Linked DNA regions of Homo sapiens. The protein of the gene in region 2 purifies or fractionates together with the protein of the main gene of each other region. This does not show direct contact. Each region holds a gene or a part of one and is shown on either strand. Other genes may lie near its edges.

The links.
Region 1: the proteins of TAB1 (region 2) and TRIM45 purify together in Homo sapiens (affinity purification with western blotting, with the first as the bait; one study listed by BioGRID). This does not show direct contact.

The regions. Positions count from the first base shown.
Region 1 is NC_000001.11:117,111,748-117,115,271, reverse strand, and holds part of TRIM45 (E3 ubiquitin-protein ligase TRIM45), read left to right. Parts: intron 1-1,786; coding exon 1,787-1,913; intron 1,914-2,818; coding exon 2,819-2,967; 3' UTR 2,968-3,524. UniProt on the Homo sapiens protein: E3 ubiquitin-protein ligase that plays a role in the regulation of inflammatory response.
Region 2 is NC_000022.11:39,406,262-39,409,785, reverse strand, and holds part of TAB1 (TGF-beta-activated kinase 1 and MAP3K7-binding protein 1), read right to left. Parts: intron 1-3,524. UniProt on the Homo sapiens protein: Key adapter protein that plays an essential role in JNK and NF-kappa-B activation and proinflammatory cytokines production in response to stimulation with TLRs and cytokines.

The sequences.
Region 1 (3,524 bases), on a different chromosome or scaffold from region 2:
GCAGACAACCATGCATATTCAAAAAATATAATCTAGCTCAGGATTTTCCAGTTTTGTCCAGACTGTGTCTGGACATGAACACAGTTGAGAGGGTTATGCCCCCTCCTCACAATTGACTAGTCATCTATCTGCCTAACCATCTGCTCATGTAATTTTCTACTCTGTTTTACATATAGGTTTTTCTGTTACTATGGTTCCTATAAACAAACAAATATACCAAACAAGTTACGTTACCATGGTTTCTACAAACAAGTATAACACAAGTAGAGCACTTTCTGCTTTAGAGAGTATGAGTTTTTAAAAATTGGGTGATACTAACAGGTCGAGCAGAATCTCTCTGCTGACATTGGAGTAGTCAGAGGTTTCCCTCCACAGAAATCAACACTGACAGGGACAGTAAAATACCATATAGCATCATGATATATTAGGCTTATGATTTGTGCACTAAGGAACATTCATATTTAATAGCCATTTATTGTTTACCTAATTATGGTATGTCAGGAACAGGTTAGGTGTTTTTACATACATTATTTCAATTTGCCTCAAAACCCTTCAGGCACAGGGATCAGTGTCCAATTAGACTGAGACACCAAACTTGCATTAAAATACACAGCAAATGTAGCAAAATAGGAATTTGAACCCATTTCTTTGAATGCCAAGTTGTTTTTTAACTGGATTGTAAACTCTTTAAGATGGGAAATTTAACATCTGAAAGACTTCTAAGGTGCTAGGTTCTCTGTTTTGCGTTTTCGCAAACAATGTGGCTCTCACATAAGGATAGGCACATTGCAACTTATTAAATATTTAAATTGGGCATGATGGTGTGCACCTGTAGTCCCAGCTACTTGGGAGGATTGCCTGAGCCCAGGAGCTCAAGGCTGCAGTGAGCTATGGATGTGCCAGTGCACTCCCGCCTGGTGACAGAGTGAGATCCCATCTTTAAAAAAATAAATAAATATTTTTTGTTTAACATGGGATATAAATTAGAGAACGAAAGTTATCCTTAAAGGAAAGGGGGCAGATGGGAGAGTTACTAATTTGAGAATTATTAGCTGTACACATTTTAACCTTTCTCCCTTCCATATGTCTTTACAGTCCCAGAATAAGTGGGTGAGTAAACAGATAAGTCATGTCCAGGATGGAAGGAAAGAGGCTAGCTTGGTATGTGAGAAGAGGTACATGGCTGAGAAATTGGAGAAGGGACCACAGAATGTCCTATCTTTGTGGTTGTGACATTCTACTTATTATACCTGAGGTTCCTTAAGAATTGAGATTGAGAATCCCAGAGAAAAGTCAGTCTGAGATTACTAATGTATTGAATGATCTAGGTACTTATACTTCATACAAGGATAGAGTGAGGCAGAATCCATCAAGAAAAGCTTAAGCTTATTGTGGCATGGGCTTCTGCTTTTGCTGCCATCTTGCCAGAACAATTATTCCCAGCTAATACAGATGTCACTGAAAATGGAGCTGACTGTGTGACTCCTTTCAGTGTCCAGCAGGTTCAGCTACATGGAATAAATCAGTACCTACGTCTAGTACTTAGCATCTGCGGTGAAAAGCATGGTAGGAGGGCTGCATAGACCCTGTGATGCTTCCACTGCATCTGTGTCTGCCTCCTCTCAGCTGAGCAGGGTTCTTGTCCTCTAATCTGTTTCTTTCCTGTTGTCCTTGTCCATCCAAGGACAGGCCCTGTGCCTCAGACTCTGTTTAGCACATAGTGATGCGCAGCACATCCTGTTAACTCGTAAGATGCTGTTCATTGCTTTTGGTCTGAACACTGCAGGGCTCGCCATTCACTGTGATGGTGAGGAGAAAGCACCGCCCACACTCAGGCGTGTTTCACTGCTGCACCTTCTGCTCCAGCGGGGGCCAGAAAACCGCTCGCTGCGCCTGTGGAGGCACCATGCCAGGTAAGGAGAAAGCACTACCCTCTGGGCCTTTCTGCCAGCAGTGGGAATCAAGCGACGGGCCCTTCCCTACCACACAGCCACTAGACATTTGGACTTAGGCTCTGTTTCTAGGAAGCACAGTCTGTGATTGTAGAGACACCACTGTTCTAAAAGTGTCACTTAAAGCTTCCTTGTTCTGAATTGAAATAGCAGACTTAAAAGCTCTCAGTTCTGTTAGTTTTGGTACAGCTCCTATGAGCCCTGTGCTTCTATGTAGGATTCTCAGTTTGTCTGTCCCTTTCCAGCGGCCTAAGCAGTGTGAAAACTATGGACCCATCTTATTCCTTTTAGAACCTTAAATAAATTCCAAATGAGGCATGGCTAGGGGAGTGGATGATTAAACCAATTGAACAAGGTCTGGGTCTTTCGGGGGACAGAAAGGATAGGGAGTCAGTTTAGGTTAGGGATCTAATTACTTTAAAAAAAAATTATTGTGTCCTTACTCTAATAATGGGCCATAAAATGGGCTTTTGCATCCTTCTGTATAAACACTTGAGGATCTACCTCTATTTTTTTAATGTCCACCAACCTATCCTTTTTTATTTCAATGATTTTACAGTTAAAATCCAAACCAATTTATTTTACAGTTAATGTGCAAACTAGTTCGCCTCCTTCAGGTGGTAAGTTCTATCACTACAGCATTCTTAGAACTCCGGCTAACATGAGTTGATTTGCTGTGATCAATTCTCAGGGTCCTCCTGACTGCACAACAGTCAGACAGCTTGTTCCTCTTGCCAAGATTTTCTTAGATATTTTCACTCCCATGAATCTGCATGTTGCCAGGAGGTCTAATTTCCATGATAATGGTAACTGCTGGCCTCCACGCTAATGGTTGATTTTTGTCCTTTCCTCTTTGTCCCATGTAGGTGGGTACCTAGGCTGTGGCCATGGACACAAAGGCCACCCAGGTCATCCCCACTGGTCATGCTGTGGAAAATTTAATGAGAAATCTGAATGCACATGGACAGGTGGGCAGAGCGCACCGAGGAGTCTACTTAGGACTGTGGCTCTCTGATGGGTTTGTGCTCAGCCTTTTAAAGCTGCAGGCAGCACCACTTGAGATTTCCAGAGGACCCAGACCTTCGTTCATTCTAAAGAGACTGATAGAATTAAAAACAAAGTGCCTTATCTTGCACTGGAGTTCAAGTGCTCTTTTGTTAGTTATTCACTGATTGTACTTGTGGATGGTTGAGCACAAAAAACCACCTCTACATTTCTCTTAAAGGTAGGTTGGCAACGTTCTTTTTCTACCACAGGATACTCCTTTTCATTTTGTACAGTATGGAGGTATCTATTCCATTGGCACTGAAGGGTCTAGGTAGTTTAGTTCCTTTCTGATATAACCCTTTTTTTTTCTTTTTTTTTTTTTTTTAAAGACAGAGTCTCACTCTGTCACCCAGGCTGGAGTGCAGTGGCATGATCTCGGCTCACTGCAACCTCTGCCTCCCGGTTCAAATGATTCTCGTGCCTTGGTGTCCCGAGTAGCTGGGATTACAGGTTCCCCCCCACCTTCCCCCACACCCAGCTAATTTTTGTGTTTTTAGTAGAGACGGGGTTTCACCATGTTGGCCA
Region 2 (3,524 bases):
GTGCTAGGAAGAAAACACACCATGGTAATGGGACACAGCGTGATGGGCGGTGGGGGCCTCTAGATGAAGTGGTCAGAAAAGCAGACCTCTCTGGGGAGGTGACGTCTGAGCCAGACCTGAATGACTATGGGGCAGTGACCTTCTAGAAGGCAGAGAAGGAGGCTTCCAGGCAGAGGGAGCGGAACGTAAAAAGACCCTAAGATGGAAAAAAGCATGTCAGGTTTACGGAAGCACGAGAAGGCTGGTGTGGCCTCTCTAGTGAGCACAGGGGAAAGACGCTCCATGCCGTGTTTGCAAATATGTGTGCACGTATGTGCCTGGGGGGGAGGGCAGTGCAAGGCCTCTGGGCCATGGGAATGAGTTAATAACCAGTGAATTAAGTATTCTTCAGGTAACTGATAAATGTTGCCAATTATCCCCTATGTCTTAGATCTGCTTAGTATATTTTCATTTCCAGCGAGCTCACAAAAGTCTCCTATAACCAGGCAAATATACTTCCAAAGGTAGCTCCTTTTCTAGTCTGTCTCCTGCCACCAGCTGGAATGAAATTAATTATGAGGTTAAGCAGAAATACAAAAGCATCTACCCAGTCAGGAGTATCCCATGTCTTCCTCCTGAAAAGATGGCCAAAGAAGTCAATATTTAGCACCCCAAAGTGCCACAGGTGTTTTAAAGCATGGGAGGAAAAGATATTTCTATTTTCTAGAAGGCTGTGATTAAAAATGAGATTAAGATGAACTCATCCTCTCATATGAGATGAATAATATTAACACAAATGTGTCACCACAATGCAAAACCTGTCTTCGATGCTGTAATCACAGTTACCTCCTCTGCCAGTATCTAATTCCCATAAGGGACAGACACAGGCTTCCAAGGACTTGAATCTTTCTAAAAAAATCCATAGTTTCCCAGCCAAATAAATAAGACCCAAGCAACTTATGGGTCTGTTCCACATTAGACATACACTATTAAAAAAGGCCAGTGAGGCCAGGCACGGTGGATCAATCCTGTAATCCCAGCACTTTGGGAGGCCGAGGTGGGTGGATCACCAAGTCAGGAGTTCAAGACCAGCCTGGCCAATATGGTGAAACCCTGTCTCTACTAAAAATACAAAAATTAACCGGGTGTGGTGGCAAGCGCCTGTAGTCTCAGCTACTCGGAAGGCTGAGGCAGAAGAATTGCTTGAACCCAGGAGGTGGAGGTTGCAGAGAGCCGAGATCGCACACGCCACTGCACTCCAGCCTGGATGACAGAGCGAGACTCCGTCTCAAAAAACAAAAACAAAAACAAAAAACGCCAGTGAAATTGTCTTCCACAAGTAAAGAAAGAAACAAGCTCAAACAGGCAACTGAGGAACTTGCCACGTTGGTGTGTCATGGCACAAGAACAATTCATCTGAGAGCGTTTCACAACAGGAGACCAGGAGTAAGCTGATGATCTACTGACCACTGTATGCTGTGCTGTATTTGGCTGATGTGGGAATAACTAACTTTCCCAAATGAGAAAAACTGTGTGTCTGACGGCAATCAATCTACTGAGCACGTGCCTTGTTCATTAAGTACCCGTGAATAGTGTCTAGATATTTCAACACTGCTAAGTACTTTTTTAGGAAATCTGATTTTCATAATGTTGAGGCAGTAATATTTCTGGAATTTATTATTTTATAAACTGGCAAATGGTGTTTGGGTCAGTAAGTATGGACACTAGTGCTATTGTTTATCTAAGGAGTCTTGGTCCATTCTTGGTAAAAACACTCCAGAAAACAGAAACTGATGGCTCCTTTCTGAACATGCTACTCTGTATACTTCAGCCCTAATGCTGGCAACTTACTCAGTGGGGAACACTTCATTAAGATCAGGGCCATAGGGCTGGGCATGGTGGCCCACATCTGTAATCCCAGCACCTTGGGAGGCTGAGGCGGGCAGATCACGAGGTCAAGAGATTGAGACCATCCTGGCTAACATGGTGAAAACCCGTCTCTACTAAAAATACAAAAAATTAGGCTGGGCACGGTGGCTCACACCTGCAATCTGAGCACTTTAGGAGGCCGAGACCGGCGAATCACGAGGTCAGGAGATCGAGACCATCCTGGCTAACACAGCAAAACCCCGTCTCTACTAAAAATACAAAAAATTAGCCGGGCGTGGTGGCAGACGCCTGTAGTCCCATCTACTATCGGGAAGCTGAGGAAGGAGAATCGCTGGAACCCGGGAGGCAGAGCGTGCAGTGAGCCGAGATCACGCCACTGCACTCCAGCCTGGGAGACAGAGTGAGGCTCCCTCTCAAAAAAAAAAAACAAAACAACAACAAATGATCAGGGCCATAGCAAGGCTGCCCACTCTATTACTTCACACAGAACTGGAGGTGTTAGCCCAGGCAGTTAGACAGAGTAAAGAATGAGAGCATAAAAACCGGGAAAGAAGTCATTTCTATTTGCAGTTGATAGGACAGTACGCCTGGCAACCCTAAAGAATCAATGAAAAACTAATGCAAACAGAAAAAGAAATCAGTTAGGCGGCAGGATAGAAAATCAAAGTATGCAAATCAACAGCTTTCATATACCCAAGAGAAGATGAGCATCTAGCCTCTATGTAATGTAAAATAACAAAGTCCTTTTCCTGTGAGTTTCTACCATGTCTGTCTCCCCCAGCCAAACTACTATAGAAGGTTGTTTTAAATCTAAATTTATATCAGTCGAATTACATCTTAATGCATTCATCCCAGCCTTCCAGACTGTCGAAAGTTTTGAATTTTGCCCTTTGACAGATTAACAATCTCACTCAGCTGTGTATCTTGTACAGACAAGGCCTTCTACTCACTGTTCCAAACAATCTCTAAAAAACTGTGACCAGAGGCCGGGCGCAGTGGCTCACGCCTGTAATCCCAGCACTTTGGGAGGCCAAGGCGGGCAGATCATGAGGTCAAGAGATTGAGACCATCCTGGCTAACACGGTGAAACCCCGTCTCTACTAAAAATACAAAAAAATTAGGTGGGCGTGGTGGTGGGTGCCTGTAGTCCCAGCTACTCCAGAGGCGGAGGCAGGAGAATGGTGTGAACCCGGGAGGCAGAGCTTGCAGTGAGCCGAGATGGCGCCACTGCACTCCAGCCTGGGCGACACAGCAAGACTCCGTCTCAAAAATAAAAAATAAATTAAAAAAAAATAAAGAAAGAGTAAGAAAAAAATTACCCAAAGAGCATATGTAAAAGTACCCATGGTAAGGCAAAGCCTGTCCCTTTCTGTCTTTTTAAGTCCTATCTACCCTAAAGGCACTGCTCAAATCCAACTAGGGCCAGAGGCCCATGATTCCCAAACCTCAATCATCCACTGACCATCTTCAAGAAACTATCTTTCACTCAAATGATTCCTTTTTTTTTTTTTTTTTTTTTGGTGACAGTCTCACTCTGTCGCCCAGGCTGGAGTGCAGTGGCGCGATCTTGGCTCACTGCAAGCTCTGCCCCTCCAGGTTTAAGCAATTCTCTGCCTCAGCCTCTGGAGTAGCTGGGATTACAGGTGCGTGCCACC